2 separate regions of the Homo sapiens genome follow, and region 2 is linked to region 1. The links come from fine-mapping of genetic effects on gene expression. A gene starts in region 1. The other region holds a variant in brackets. All regions are shown on one strand. Distances are between the middles of the regions. Region 1 holds the start of APOA1 (apolipoprotein A1). Region 2 holds the start of LNC-RHL1 (lncRNA regulator of hepatic lineages 1).

What was found.
Region 2: its variant is fine-mapped to the expression of APOA1 in atrial appendage (GTEx, PIP 0.97).

The regions. Positions count from the first base shown.
Region 1 is chr11:116,833,222-116,841,553 of GRCh38, reverse strand. It overlaps APOA1 (apolipoprotein A1), which reads left to right and starts at 3,932. Exons shown (of 4, transcript NM_000039.3): 1 at 3,932-3,949; 2 at 4,147-4,209; 3 at 4,397-4,553; 4 at 5,143-5,803. The coding sequence starts at 4,167. The coding sequence ends at 5,746. It also overlaps APOA1-AS.
Region 2 is chr11:116,811,231-116,819,562 of GRCh38, reverse strand. It overlaps LNC-RHL1 (lncRNA regulator of hepatic lineages 1), which reads left to right and starts at 5,381. Exons shown (of 2, transcript XR_007062898.1): 1 at 5,381-5,647; 2 at 6,110-6,654. The variant C/T (reference allele first, on the strand shown) is at 4,888.

The DNA.
Region 1 (8,332 bases):
GGATACAGACTGGAGAGCTTAGCTCCAGAAAACAGGAGCCATGTTGACAGAAAACCGTGCTCTACACAGTTTTCTTTCTGACTTTGTGCCAGCCCCCACCCCACCCCAACTGCAAAGATCAAGAACTCAGAGGGCTACTGTGCTTCCCTCCTGCTGATCAAAGATGAGCTCTGTCCTGGCCTTAGTCTTTTCCAAGCAGGAGGGCAGGAGAGAATCTTGCATAGCTGGCTACGGTGCCCCACCCAAGGGTCTAACTTGGGGCTCTATCACAAAAGCTGCAGCAAAATTGCCAAAAGTAGGAACTACTGGGGGTGGGGGTCCTGTCTCCCCTGCTCAGTCACCACCTCCCCTCCCTAACTCTCATTCTGGCTCATACCACGTGCTCCCAGAAGAAACGTTCTGAGCAGGGGCTGGTATGAGACTGCCTCCCCTCCCAGGACCCACTCCTCCCTATGACCAGGCTGGTGACCCTCCCTCTAGGGTGCCAGTGCCATTCACTGAGCAGATGTTTGGCAGGTGTCTGTTATGTGCCAGACCTAGCAGGGGACAGAGTCCTCCCGATACAGATGGACCAGTATGTTTGGACATAAATTGTGAAAGGAGTTGCTAATCTTTCTGTGCAAAATCCACTCTTGCGGTCACCGCCAACACTCCTACACATGTCAGGGCATCCAGGGCCAGGACTTGGTAACCCTGTTCAGGAGCAGTCGCTCTGGAGACTCCCAAGACGAGGGAAAGAAATGGGTGGAAACAGGGGCCTACACTGTGGGCCCCGCAGCCACCAAACAGTCCAACCCGTGGCCACTGAGTGCCTTGAACAATGCCTGGCTGGACCCTGAGTCTGAGTGTGTCATCAACCCAGTTTGTTATTGTCGTTGTTGTTGTTATGTATTTTTCCATCAGCTCTGTCCAGAAAGACCTCCTTCCTTTCCAAAATATTAGTAAAGGGGGCTTAGACTAGTTTAAGCCAAATACCTTGCAATAAAATGGAGTAGCCACCCTGGTGAATAAGTATATTTAGAAAAGGAAACTGCCTGCTTGGTAAGATGCTGTTCAACAGCACCCCCTATCCTGATGCCTCGCAGTCCCTGAGCCAGGAAACTGAGAAGTCCCTGATCAGACTGCAAAGGCTGCAGGCTCCGCAAGGGTGCAAGGCCACCCTCAAAGAACTAGAAGCCAGGCCTCCCGATTCCCACCCCTGCCAGCGCTAAATAGTAACCGCTGAAGGATGCAGGGCAGCTGTGAGCTGCAGTTTTCCCACAGGCAAAAATCACAAGGGTAAAATCTGGCCTCCAGCCTTATAGGGATATTCTAAGTTGTGAAAGTGCTTTGGCCACAAAGAACTGCGCAAATGTTAAATACTAGGTTTAGCCATAACAATCATTTTAGTAACAAACCAAAGAGAAGGGTGAAACACTGGCAAGTATCTTGGAGTCCAACCAGTAAGCTTCTGAGATTCCCCCATGTGCTGACTGGGACAAACTCTACCCCCCAAAAGAAAAGACGCTCTCTTGGCCCGAGACACCTGTGAGCTGTCCCAGCAGGGGACCAGCCACCTTCCCACTTTCTAAAGCTACAGACAGCTGGGATGGTCAAGTAGGCAGCCCAGGCTGATGGCTCACCAAGGCCACCTCCCTGTCTACACAGTCCCATAGACATCTGGGGCCACTTCAGTCCTAGAAAAGATGTTCCATATCTCAGCAACTGCAAGTCAAGGACAAGCAGAGAGATGTGGGACTGCTGCCTTCATGCCTGCTGCAGAAGCTGAGGTCTCAGATCTGATAAAGCAAGTGTAGTGGGAATAAGGGAATACATTACCAGAAACTGGGATTCTAGAAAACAGAATAGTTACTGTTTACTAAGTGCTAGGTACCTTTCTAACAGTTTTGCATATATGTTCAAAGTTCATGCTTAAAACGATACAAATTTATTATCTTACAGTTATGGAGGACAGAAGTCCAAAATGGGTCATACTGGGCTAAAATCATGGTGGCAGCAGAGCTGTGCTCCTGGAGGCTGCAGGGAAAAATCCTTTGCCTTCTCCAGCTTCTAGGGAAGGGTTGCTCATGTCCCTCAGCTCATGGCCCCCTTCCAGCAGTCACGAGTCTGATCTCCACTGCCATCCTCACATCTCTTTCTCTGACTCTGAGGCCACTGCCTCCCTCTTGTATAATTAAGGACCCCTGTGATGACAATGGGCCCACCTGGAGAATCCAGGCCAACCACCCCATCTCCAGGTCCTTAATCACACTAGCAAAATCTTTTTTTGCCATGGAAGGTAGCAAAGCCACAGGTTCCAGGGATGAGGCTGTGGACATCTTTGGGGAGCGTTATTCTGCTTGCCACACAGTAACCCCTGCCATAACTCAGGGCGATGGCATATTCTATCATTATCTTCAATCAGAAACTGATGTGTGGGGAGGTGATGTATCATAACTCATCCAGGGTCAGGCAGCTGGATTTGAACCTGCCTGACCCTTAGATTTGAGGTTTTCTGGCTCCAGAATCTTCTCTGAAGTGAAAGGCATGAGGCCGACCACTCCCTGATCTGGTAAACAGAGATGTCAGCCTGGTTTCTAGTGTTAGGGAGTTTCCTGGAGTGATGGTACAGGGTACATTTCTGCCCTGCATCCCAAGTCCAGAGACTGGGTTCTAGGTCCAGCCTTTCTTCTAACTCCCTGAGAGATGACAGCCTCTGGGCAAAGTCCCTCTGTGCTCTTCAGTCTCTTCATCTGTGAGATGGTGGCATGGGGAGAGGCTGGAGTGATGTCACAGTTCCTCTCAGCCTGCATCACAGGCTCTAGGACTCAGGTCCTATCAGTAACCTGCTGGGGGAGGTCTGGGCCTTCCAGGAGAAACCTGACAAGATGGTGCTGCAAACACCAACGGACACACAGCACTTTACATTCACAGGCTGTCTCAGGGGCCTCCAACAACCCTGACCATTCTTGCCCCATTTTGCAGATAGAAAACCGAGGCTCAGAGAGATTATATAACTTGCCCACGATCTTCCTCCAGCAAGATGGAGGCCAAGTGAAATGAGAAAGCAGGTCTCCTGCCACTTCCTTTGCCCAGAGGTCTTCTCCCCACACCAGGGCTTCCCAAGGGCTGAGATCCAGTCACACCTGTGCGTGATCAAATATAAGTGTGAACAATGCAAAGGGAGACGTCTTCAATCTAAGGGGCTTCAATTCTGTAATGTAATTCTGAGATTATGCCCTTTTTTGTTAAAGCCTTTCCTTTTTGAAGTGATGGTCACTGTAGATGGTGAGGGTTTTTTGGAGGCGGACAATATCTTTACATGACAAAATTAAAAGTTGGCAGCTCCGAATTGATCTCTGGAGTGTTTTGAAATGCAAGAGGTCTCCGAAACCTCAGTCTGGGAGCCACGGAGGGCTCTCCCCTCTCCCCAGGTTTACCAGTTTGGGAGGCTTGGAGAGAGGCCTGGAGGACCTGCTGGGGACTAAAGAAGAGCACTGGTGGGAGGACAGGGCGGGGGAAGGGGGAGGGGAGTGAAGTAGTCTCCCTGGAATGCTGGTGGTGGGGGAGGCAGTCTCCTTGGTGGAGGAGTCCCAGCGTCCCTCCCCTCCCCTCCTCTGCCAACACAATGGACAATGGCAACTGCCCACACACTCCCATGGAGGGGAAGGGGATGAGTGCAGGGAACCCCGACCCCACCCGGGAGACCTGCAAGCCTGCAGACACTCCCCTCCCGCCCCCACTGAACCCTTGACCCCTGCCCTGCAGCCCCCGCAGCTTGCTGTTTGCCCACTCTATTTGCCCAGCCCCAGGGACAGAGCTGATCCTTGAACTCTTAAGTTCCACATTGCCAGGACCAGTGAGCAGCAACAGGGCCGGGGCTGGGCTTATCAGCCTCCCAGCCCAGACCCTGGCTGCAGACATAAATAGGCCCTGCAAGAGCTGGCTGCTTAGAGACTGCGAGAAGGAGGTGCGTCCTGCTGCCTGCCCCGGTCACTCTGGCTCCCCAGCTCAAGGTTCAGGCCTTGCCCCAGGCCGGGCCTCTGGGTACCTGAGGTCTTCTCCCGCTCTGTGCCCTTCTCCTCACCTGGCTGCAATGAGTGGGGGAGCACGGGGCTTCTGCATGCTGAAGGCACCCCACTCAGCCAGGCCCTTCTTCTCCTCCAGGTCCCCCACGGCCCTTCAGGATGAAAGCTGCGGTGCTGACCTTGGCCGTGCTCTTCCTGACGGGTAGGTGTCCCCTAACCTAGGGAGCCAACCATCGGGGGGCTTTCTCCCTAAATCCCCGTGGCCCACCCTCCTGGGCAGAGGCAGCAGGTTTCTCACTGGCCCCCTCTCCCCCACCTCCAAGCTTGGCCTTTCGGCTCAGATCTCAGCCCACAGCTGGCCTGATCTGGGTCTCCCCTCCCACCCTCAGGGAGCCAGGCTCGGCATTTCTGGCAGCAAGATGAACCCCCCCAGAGCCCCTGGGATCGAGTGAAGGACCTGGCCACTGTGTACGTGGATGTGCTCAAAGACAGCGGCAGAGACTATGTGTCCCAGTTTGAAGGCTCCGCCTTGGGAAAACAGCTAAAGTAAGGACCCAGCCTGGGGTTGAGGGCAGGGGTAGGGGGCAGAGGCCTGTGGGATGATGTTGAAGCCAGACTGGCCGAGTCCTCACCTAATATCTGATGAGCTGGGCCCCACAGATGGTCTGGATGGAGAAACTGGAATGGGATCTCCAGGCAGGGTCACAGCCCATGTCCCCTGCAAAGGACAGACCAGGGCTGCCCGATGCGTGATCACAGAGCCACATTGTGCCTGCAAGTGTAGCAAGCCCCTTTCCCTTCTTCACCACCTCCTCTGCTCCTGCCCAGCAAGACTGTGGGCTGTCTTCGGAGAGGAGAATGCGCTGGAGGCATAGAAGCGAGGTCCTTCAAGGGCCCACTTTGGAGACCAACGTAACTGGGCACTAGTCCCAGCTCTGTCTCCTTTTTAGCTCCTCTCTGTGCCTCGGTCCAGCTGCACAACGGGGCATGGCCTGGCGGGGCAGGGGTGTTGGTTGAGAGTGTACTGGAAATGCTAGGCCACTGCACCTCCGCGGACAGGTGTCACCCAGGGCTCACCCCTGATAGGCTGGGGCGCTGGGAGGCCAGCCCTCAACCCTTCTGTCTCACCCTCCAGCCTAAAGCTCCTTGACAACTGGGACAGCGTGACCTCCACCTTCAGCAAGCTGCGCGAACAGCTCGGCCCTGTGACCCAGGAGTTCTGGGATAACCTGGAAAAGGAGACAGAGGGCCTGAGGCAGGAGATGAGCAAGGATCTGGAGGAGGTGAAGGCCAAGGTGCAGCCCTACCTGGACGACTTCCAGAAGAAGTGGCAGGAGGAGATGGAGCTCTACCGCCAGAAGGTGGAGCCGCTGCGCGCAGAGCTCCAAGAGGGCGCGCGCCAGAAGCTGCACGAGCTGCAAGAGAAGCTGAGCCCACTGGGCGAGGAGATGCGCGACCGCGCGCGCGCCCATGTGGACGCGCTGCGCACGCATCTGGCCCCCTACAGCGACGAGCTGCGCCAGCGCTTGGCCGCGCGCCTTGAGGCTCTCAAGGAGAACGGCGGCGCCAGACTGGCCGAGTACCACGCCAAGGCCACCGAGCATCTGAGCACGCTCAGCGAGAAGGCCAAGCCCGCGCTCGAGGACCTCCGCCAAGGCCTGCTGCCCGTGCTGGAGAGCTTCAAGGTCAGCTTCCTGAGCGCTCTCGAGGAGTACACTAAGAAGCTCAACACCCAGTGAGGCGCCCGCCGCCGCCCCCCTTCCCGGTGCTCAGAATAAACGTTTCCAAAGTGGGAAGCAGCTTCTTTCTTTTGGGAGAATAGAGGGGGGTGCGGGGACATCCGGGGGAGCCCGGGTGGGGCCTTTGGCCCTGGAGCAGGGACTTCCTGCCGGATCTCAACAACTCCGTGCCCAGACTGGACGTCTTAGGGCCAAGATCGACGTTGGAGGACCTGCTGGACGCCTGGCTGCTTACGAGTGAGGGAGTAGAGTCTGCCTTAGCAAGGCTCAAGTAGAAAGGAAGTCACAGCGGACCAGGCAAAGCCACAGACAATCCAAGGCCAGGTGCCCTGAAAGGGGCTCAAACAAGGCCTGCAGCCCTGTCTGAGGCGGGCCAGGAAACAGGGTTGCTTTAGCTGGGAGCAGTGGGTTCCCCGTCCCCAGAGGTGTGTCCGTATAGAGCCTTCTCCAGCCCAGCCGCTGTCAGCGGGGCGGGACGGAGCGGGGCGGCCTCAGGGAGCCAGCCACTGGGATTGGGGTTTGGTCCCGGGTGCAAGTGAAGCGCTTGGAGTTTGCGCCTGTCCTCCTTTACTAATTCAAAAACCTCTCAAACAGACACTTCCCTTTTCTTCTCACAAGGCCAGTATCCCCCTCCCACTACTCCCATCCCGCCCAGAAACAGCCGCGGCTTCCTCAGGCACAGCAGTGGAAGCCAGTCCTCCACCCCCTGCGGCTCCATGCCATGCCACCCCCTCTTTCTGCCAGCCCTGGCAGAAGCTGGCCTGAGTAAGAAAATTCACCACCACCTCTTGCAGGTACATTTTTATTTCCAAGATGCTCTCATATCTGTGCTCTCACTGCATCCTCCCTTCCCCACATCCTGGCTAGATTGCCATCAGACGCAGAGCATGGATGAGGACACTGAAGCCTGGACCTGTGACGTCGCTTGCCCAGTGAACAGCAGGATGGGCTAGGCCGCGCTTTTTAGACCCTGCACCCCTGGCCATCCATGATTATTGAAAAGAGTGCGCGGGTCGGGTGCGGTGGCTCAAGCCTGTAATCCCAGCACTTTGGGAGGCTGAGGTGGGCGTATCACTTCAGGCCAGGAGTTTGAGACCAGCCTGGCCAATATGGTGAAACCCTGTCTCTACTAAAAATACAAAAAAAATCAGCTGGGCATGGTGGCTTGCACCCGTAATCCCAGCTACTAGGAAGGCTGAGGCAGGAGAATCGCTTGAACCTGGGAGGCAGAGGTCACAGTGAGCCGAAATCATGCCACTGCACTCCAGCCTGGGCGACGGAGCAAGACTCCAGCTAAAAAAAAAAAAAAAAAAAAAAGAGTGTGTGGCCTGGCACTCAAGTTCACATGGGTGTGCAGGCATGCCTGTGTATTCTCACATGACCTCCCTGCTCACGGTCCCTCCTTGCACTCATGTCTGAATGTCCCCGCGTGCACGCACATGGCTTCACAGATCTGGGCAGTGCCTTCCCTACCCTCTCTCTGCAGGGCCTTTTGCCCCCTCATGCAGGCCCCTGGATAATCGGCCCCATCCCCATGTCCCCATCTCCAGTGTATCTTAGCTACCCTAGGTAAAGGAGTGGGCTTTTTAGTTCCTAACCTTCCAGAGCTACAACAGCAGTCATCCAGCCAGGTCTGGGTGGGAACATTTTCTAGATACGGGTGCTGAGATCTCTCAGCCCAGAGAGAAGCCCTGGGGAATTTTCAGAGAGAAAGCAGTCTCCAGGTGGGGCTGGATGTACTGATGCCACTGAGATCTGTAAAGGAGTCCCTAACACCTGACATAGGAGTGACAAAACTGTTTTCTGCACCAACTGAGCAGAATACACGCAGCTGACCTGGGCTCAAGGTCTGGCCCTGCCACGTGCTGGCTCTGTGATGCTGGCCAAGTGCCTTCGCCTCTCCGGGCCACAGTTTTTTGATCTGAAGAGTGGAGCCCTACTCAAGCCATCTGCAGCTCTCGGGCTCTCTGACCTGACATCTTTCGGGTGGTGGGGACACAAAGGAAGCAGCCTCTATTGGGAGACCTTGTGCTTCTTTTTGGTCCCAGGACACTGCCCCCCACCACTCCAGTCCGGGTCCCAAGGGCCCAGTCAGCTCAACTGTAATCATGACAACATTGATCAAGCATCTTTACGTGCAGGTGCTGTGCCAAACGGTTCGAACGCTCTCTCATTTCAATCTCACGGCAAACCTACGGTGGAGGGGGTACGGTTGTATCCACTTTACATGTAAGAAACTGAGGCTGATATCAAGTGGTGGAGCCAAGAATAGTGCCTCGTTGCATCTTACTCCAACCTCTAGCCCATCCGGCCTCCTCCCTTCACGTGCGCCTAAGAGGGCTAGGGGGCCTGGATAGGGGAGGTCAGCTCCACAGTTTTGAGTAAACACACACAGTCTCAACTCTGATGACAACTTAAGTGCCAGGCATAGTGGCTGGCATGGGGCACACACTCAAGTCATGTTGTGCAGCACCTAACAGTTTATCAAAGTATCAGCAAACTTATTGTCCTGTTTGACCTTCCGCACAAAGCTGTCAAGGAAGGCAGGGTACGGAGGGTGATTCCTACCTTAGAGATGAAGAAACT
Region 2 (8,332 bases), 22 kb after region 1:
GTTTGAATCCTGGCTTTTTGACCGACTACCGGGTGATGTGGGGCGAATAATTGAGCTTCTTTTGGAAGACATGGGTAATGACAATCCTCTGCTTAGAGAGGAGTTGTGCTGAAGGTTTGATGGAGCAACGGAGTCAAGCACTTAACATCAGGCACAGAATAACCGTGCAATAGCTGGTGCTGCAGTAAATGTGACTTCCTCATCCCGCTCACCTCCAGGCCACACTCTATTAATGAGACCGCCACAGCTGGCCAAGGGTAGACCCCCGGGTCTCCCCTGCCCCAGCTGCTCTCGCTCCTGCATACCAGGCCAGTAAGGCTGCTGCGGCCACTTTGATACCTACCCCCACTAGAAGCACAGGAACCTATGGGGAAACACCTTGACAAACCCACCAGGCACCTGGAGGTTTACTGGATGGCTTTAGGAAAGGGCCAATGAGGCCAAACAGAGCAACGAGTCACCAAAAGGAAGTGAGATGCAGGGTGGGCCGGGTTCCAAGAGGGTCTGGAAGCTTCTGAGATGCTCTCAGACCTCACCTGAGGGCTGCCTGGTTTAGTGCTGACTCCAGAACCCCTGGGGGCCTCAGTGTCTCCCAGAACTTGGTTCTTAATATGAACCCTGGGCCGGGCGCGGTGGCTCATGCCTGTAATCCCAGCACTTTGGGAGGCCGAGGTGGGTGGATCATGAGGTGAAGAGATCAAGACCATCCTGGCCAACATGGTGAAACTCCGTCTCTACTAAAAATACAAAAAATTAGCTGGGCGTGGTGGTGGGCTCCTGTAATCCCAGCTACTTGGGAGGCTGAAGCAGGAGAATCGCTTGAACCCAGGAGGCGGAGGTTGCAGTGAGCCAAGATCGCGCCATTGCACCACTCCAGCCTGGGCAAAAAGAGAGAAACTCTGTCTCAAAAAAAAAAAAAAAAAAAAAAAAAATATATATATATATATATATATACACACACACATATATATTCATATATAATTCATATATATATTCATATATAATTCATATATATATTCATATATATTCATATATAATTCATATATATATTCATATATATTCATATATATTCATATATAATTCATATATAAATTCATATATATTCATATATATATTCATATATAAATTCATATATATTCATATATAAATTCATATATATTCATATATATATTCATATATATATTCATATATATTCATATATATATTCATATATAATTCATATATATATTCATATATATATTCATATATAAATTCATATATAATTCATATATATATTCATATAGATATTCATATATAATTCATATAGATATTCATAGATATTCATATATATTCATATAGATATTCATATATTCATATATATTCATATATTCATGTATATTCATATAGATATTCATATATAGATATTCATAGATATTCATATATAGATATTCATATAGATATTCATATATAGATATTCATATAGATATTCATGTATAGATATTCATATATATATATTCATATCTATATGAATATAGATATGAATATATCTATATATGAATCCTGGATTAGACCCGTGCACCTCTCCCACCACCCTTAGGGCCATCCTGCAGGTCTCTGAGGGTCCTGCCACAGTCCTCGTCCTCCTGGATGAGGAATGCCTTCTCTTTCCTGTACCAAGATGTCTCATCAATCCCCTGGGTCTGGCAGAGGTCTCTTGGTAGTAACTTTGCTTTTGGCTGCTGCAGTGAACTGAATGTTTGCGTCCCCCTAAATTCCTATGTTGCAATTCTAATCTGTAAGGTGATGGCATTAGGAGAGAAGGCATTTGGGAGGTGATCAGGTCATGAAGGGGGAGCCCTCATGAATGAGATTAGTGTCCTTATAAAAGAGGCCCCACAGAAATCCCTTGCCCCTTCCACGTGCGAGGACACAGCGAGAAGGTGCCATTTATGAACCAGGAAGTGGGCCCTCACCAGACACGGGATATGCTGGTGCCTTGCTCTTAGACTTCCCAGCCTCCAGGACTATGAGGAATAAATGTCTGTTGTTTGTAATCCACCCAGTTTTTGGTGTCTCGTTATAGAAGCCCAAAAGATCTAAGACACTTTCCCAGCCTCTGAAGCTCTCCTGTTTTGTTTCGAAAGTGTCTCGCTGATGAGTTTTGGTGGGAGTCAGAGGCTGCCTCCATTACAGACACTAACAACTCCAGTCGCCTGCCTTCTAGCCTCGCTTACCTCCAGCATGGGACATGGGACCTATGCTCAGCAAATCAGATGTAATTGCCCCAGACTGGTGTAAAGAAACAGAGACAGTGGAGAATCTTTTCTGGGGTGGGCAGGAACAGTGCGGCAGCAACAGGCAGCTTGCGGCCAGGCTAGAGCCTCAGGCCAGGGACCAGGCGTGGCAGTGGCTGGTGGGCAAACTGGGCTGTCCCCATCCTGGCTCAGTGGTGACAGCACAGCCGTCCCCATCACTCTAGTTCTGTGGCATGAGCATGGCCATGTTTCTCCCTCAGCTCCCCTTATTCTTGTTTATTTTCCAAACCAAGTACTCCAGCTTTCCTAGACATTTCCTTGAAATTCCTGGAAATATGTCAGTAAGTTCATCTTCTGATTATGTCTTCCAGAGTAGGTTTCTGTGGCTAGCAATTAAAAACCTTGATTGAGGCCAGGCGTGATGGATCACGCCTGTAATCCCAGCACTTTGGGAGACTGAGGTGGGTGAATCACCTGAGATAGGGAGTTCGAGACCAGCCTGACCAACATGGTGAAACCCCCGTCTCTACTAAAAATACAAAAATTAACTAGGTGTGGTGGCACACGCCTGTAATCCCAGCTACTCAGGAGGCTGAGGCAGGAAAATTGCTTGAACCCAGGAGGTGGAGGTTGCAGTGAGCTGAGATCAGGCCATTGCACTCCAGCCTGGGTGAAAGAGCAAGACTCTGTCTCAAAAACAAACAAACACACACACATCACTTTGATTGACACACCCCACACACCCCTTCCCTCTTAGGGATGTTTCTCTTGCTTTGGGCCTTGGAAGACACACCCTCATCTCTGGCCTGTTCCAGTTGGTCAATTGGTTTGTCTGAGATACACTTATTAGTCCTCATTAGGGTTGGTCCCATCTTCCAAGGAAAGCAGCCTTCCTCCTGTTCTGAGCTAGCAGGTGGACTTAGTCCCCCTGTGGCCAGTCAGTCCTCTGCTCCTCTCCAGCGGCTGAGCTGACTGGGGACCTGGGCAACAGCCTCTACCTGCCCTTCTCAGAGATTCTCTAACAGCTGGTCTCAGATCTCTCATGAGGTCCTGAGTTCAAGCAAAACACTCTGGTTTGGTTTGGGGAATCTGTTTATTTATGGGAAGATGTCCAAGATATTTTATGAAAAAAAAAAAAGCAAGGTTTCAACTATTATGTACTTTACAACCCGGTCAAGGAACACACATACATATTGGTATGTGAACGTGTAAGGAAGTGAAAATCCTGTTAGCTTAACAGTTAGACCTAGAATACCTCTGAAAGAGAGAATGTCATTGACAGTGCATGCTAGCTGTTGACCAGGACACCCAGAGGAACTGGCTGGAAAGAGACCACAAGGCAGAGAGATGGAGTCAATTGTTCCGTGCATTCCCTGCACTGGCATTTGAGGTGGTAATGAAGAGTAGGAAAGGAGGGGAGGTCACAGAAGGGAAAACAGGGAATACATGAGGAGGTGAAAGCCCCCTACAAATGATGGCCAATAAGAAATGCCCAGTGGCAACGGTTGTAGAGCTTTTCAATGCAAGGATGGCAATTCATTGCTGACTGCAATGCTGGTAGTGTGAGGTGCTTTTAAAAACCACCTTATATTACCATATTGGCTCATATAATTCTCATGATCGACCATCACATCAAAGACACAATAGATGAGGAAGAGGCACTTCAGAATGGTGAGGTACATTACCTAGCAAGTGGTGGAATGGGATTTTTTTTTTTTTTTTTTTTTTTTTTTTTTTACCAGCGCTTTGGGAGGCCAAGGCGGGTGGATCACTTGAGGTCAGGAGTTCAAGACCAGCCTGGCCAACATGGCGAAACCCCCTCCTCTATTAAAAATACAAAAATTGGCTGGGCTTTGTGGTGCGTGCTTGCAATCTCAGCTACTAGGGAGGCTGAGGCAGGAGAATCGCCTGAACTCGGGAGACGGAGATTTCAGTGAGCCGAGATCATGCCACTGCCAGCCTGGGTGACAGAGTGAGACTCTGTCTCCAAAAAAAAAAAAAAGAAGAGAAAGAAAAAAATATGCCATTTTAGGCCAGGTGTGGTGGCTCACACCTGTAATCCCAGCACTTTGGGAGGCTGAGACAGGTGGATTGCTTGAGCCTAGGAGTTCGAGACCAGCCTGGCAACATGGCGAAAACTTGTCTCTACAAAAAATACAAAAATTAGCCAAGTGTGGTGGTGCACACCTGTGGTCCAAGCTACTCGAGAGACTGAGGTGGGAGGATTGCTTGAGCCCAGGAGGTTGAGGCTGGGGTGAGTTGAGATCATGCCACTGCAGTCCAGCCTGGGCAACAGAGGAAGACCCTGTCTCAAGAAAAAAAAAAAAAAGAAGAAGAAGAAAAGAAAAAAATGCCACCACTTTAGTATTACTTTTATAACATAAAATTTACCATTTAAACTATTTATAGGTGTTCAAGTCAGTGGCATTAATTACATTTACAATGTTGTGCAACCACCGCCACCACTATTTCTGAAAATCTTTTCATCACCCCAAACAGAAAACTCTATCCATTAAGCAATTGTGAAAACTGCCGCTATGAATGGGGGTGTACACATATCTTTCCAGTCCTTGCTCTCAATTCTTCTGAGCAAATATCCAGAAGTGGAATTGCTGGGTCACACGGTAATTCTATATTTAAATTTTGGAGGAAC[C/T]GCCAAACTGTTTTTTTATAGTAGTGGCACCATTTCACATTCCCACTGGTGACGCCCAGGGTTCCAATTTCTTCACAGCCTCTCCAACGCTTGTTGTTTTCTGTTATTTTTTGGTTTTGTTTTATTTTGTTTTTAACAATAGTCATCCTGAGAGTAGTACTTTTAAAACCAGAAATAAGTAAGAAAAGAAATATTCCCCAGAGCTTCTCCAGGCTACAGTCTATGCCACCAGGAAAGACTGAATCATTGAGACCCATAGGAGAGCGTGTGCTGGGAGGTCCCTGTGGGCACCAGGGAGGTGTGTTTGAACTCCAGCCCAGCCCACATTAGCTTACCCAACAGTCCCTCAGAGCCAGCACAATTTCAGGCCATTATCTCCCTGGTCACCACTGGCTCCTCAGGTGACTTGGAAGTAGATGACTCCTCTGTGGGCCTGGGTTAGTGCCTCAAAGGCATGCTGACCAGCACTGGTTTGGGCCAGGCTGAGATGCTAGCCACACTCCTATGCCCATCCCCAAGTTCAAAGGTCAGAAGTCCTCTGAGAACATCCAGGGTCACTACCCCTGAGGTCTCTGGTGTACTACGTGGCCCTGATTAGGGCAAAGGGAAGTGATCTGAGGGCCACTCTCTTCCTGTACATACAGGGCCTTGCTGCTCTTGAGGGATTGTCCTGGCAGGATCAAAAGCAGCTCCTGCATGGGGACGCCGTGTCCTCCTGCTGTTATCATAGTATGCCCTGTGCTCCCAGGAGGAGGCTGAGGTATGTCCTGGGGACAGAAACAACAAGCTTAGGGTTATTTGGGCACTCCCTTGTCTCCTGTCTGAGAGCGTGCAGGGTGGAGTCATGCTATCTTGCTGTGTGATGACAAGTAGCTGACAATGCAGGGGCACAATAAAAACCCCCGAATGGCCCACATCTGAGGAGCGAGGGTTTGGTGAGCTGCTGGTTCTGAGATAATGGATTGGTGATATGGGAACAAAAGACCTAGGACCTGGAATCATAAGATCACAGGGCATTAGGGTTGGAGGGAACAACCTTGTCTCTCAGCCCTAATTCCTTTGATATCATTTAAGGAATGATCTTAACTCTAGGCTAACAGCCCTCGAGCTCAGGCACACCATTTGTTTGTTCATCATTGTATTTGCAGGATGTGGTAGCTAGCCCTCACAATGGTGGCTGATGTGTGATCAATAGGCTATGTCATGGTATTTCACTTCTAAGTCTAGATCATAAAGGGCATTGTGGCACCTACCTTGATTTCTCTTGGATCACTCATTCTGAGGGAAGATAGCTGCCATGTTGGGAGGACGTGCAAGCAGCCCTGTGAAGAGGTCAACACAGGGGGGAACTGAAGCCCCTTCCAAACAGCTAGCACCAACTTGCCAGCCATGTAAAGTGATTCACCTTGGAAACAGATCCTCCAGCCTCAGCCAAGCCTTCAGATGCAACCTCATGACAGACTCTGAACCAGAAACACACAGCCAAGCTGCTGACCCACAGACTTTGTGAGAGATCATAAACATTTACTGTTGTTCTAAGACACTGTTTTAGGGTGCTTTGTTGTACAACAATAGCTTACTGAAAATACAGAGAGCCTAGCACAGTGCCTGCATGTGGTCATCACTCAATGGTTGAGCGAGTGAATCTTGCTTAGTATTGAACACTCCCACTGACAGCTAACTGTACCATCTCTCAAAACAATTCATTCTATCTTTGGGCAATTCTGTTAAAGATTATTAGAATTAAATTGGATCTTTCTCAATACAGCTTCCACATCTTGGTCTTATTTTTACTGCTCTTTCAAAAATCATTAAACTGGAATCTTTCTTAACATAGCTTCTACACTTTGATCTTACTTTTTTTCTCTTTCGAACCATAGAATAATTATTCCTTTATACATGCATTCTACGTACAGGAAATCTTCCCACAGACTCATTCATGGAACCCCAAACCATATGGAGAAAATTGAGCCAGAGATGTGTTATACTTCACAGCTGCCTTGGGTTGAAGAATCTTGGCTGGTTTCTGAAAGGGCAGAAGTCTTGTCTATGTTTATTCTTGAACAGTCAGTGCCTAGCATGATGACTAGAACTTAGTAGGTATTCAATAAATATTTGTTGACTGAATGAATTTAATAAATCTTTTTGTCTTGCTGAGTTGTATGAGATATATATATATTTTTATATTTATATGTATTTATATCTATATTTATATATAAATATATATATATCTCATACAACTCAGCAAGACAAAAAGATTTAAATATTTAATATATTTAAATATTTAATATATTTAATATATTTATATTATTTAAAATTATATTATTTAAAATATTTAATATATTTATATTAAATCCCAAAGTGCTGGGATTACAGGCGTGAGCCACTGCGCCCGGCGTGGATCCTCTCATTTTCTTATCTTTGTTCTTACTTCAATCTCTACATGCTCTCCCTTTCTGAACTATTTCTTTACTCTCTATTCAGTTTTTATTTCTACTATCTTTTTTTTAATTTCTAAGAGTTTTTGTTATTGTTATTCTGTGAAGGTCTTTTTATACTATCCTGTTCTTGTTTAATCAATGTAATCTTTTCATTCTCTGATGTTATTAATGGCATTTTTCAATGTTCTTCTTTCTGTATATTCTCAGTTTTCTCTAACTTCCTTTTTAAATATTTGTTTGTTTTGGGTCTCTATCTTTCATGTTAGAATCTTTCCTCAAATGACTGGTAATCCTTGGTTGCTTAAGTTTAAGAGTGGGAGATTTGGGCTGGGAGCGGTGGCTCACGCCTGTAATCCCAGCACTTTGGGAGGCCAAGGTGGGTGGATCACGAGGTCAGGAGATCGAGACCATCCTGGCTAACATGGTGAAACTCTGTCTCTACTAAATATGCAAAAAATTAGCCAGGCGTGGTGGCAGGTGCCTGTAGTCCCAGTTACTCAGGAGGCTGAGGCAGGAGAATGGCGTGAACCCGGGAGGCAGAGCTTGCAGTGAGCCGAGATCGCACCACTGCACTCCAGCCTGGGTGACAGAGCGAGACTCTGTCTCAAAAAGAAAAAAGAAAAGAATGGGAGATTTTAAAGGTGATTTGAAGCTCCAATACGTGCGTAGTACTTATTGACTATGAATGTCACTGCAGGGTGATCCACTGAGATGTTTAGCTGGGGAACCCCATTGTGAAAATCTTTGGGTCTTACCTCTTGAGCTGGACATATTCCCCTAAGAAATGTCTTTCACTCTTCTGCCTGGAGGGTAAAGGCCTGAATACAGTGTCCCTGGGGCCAAGTGGAAGAAGCAGGAGGGTGATTCAGCATTTCAGAGGGTATACTTTGATTTAATCCTCTTGCTAGTACAGGTCTCCTGCCCTCAACTCTGCCTGACGTTCAAGAGAATAAACTTCCAGTCTTCTACTAAGGTGAGACAGGGAAGCTAAAGCTCTAACTGCT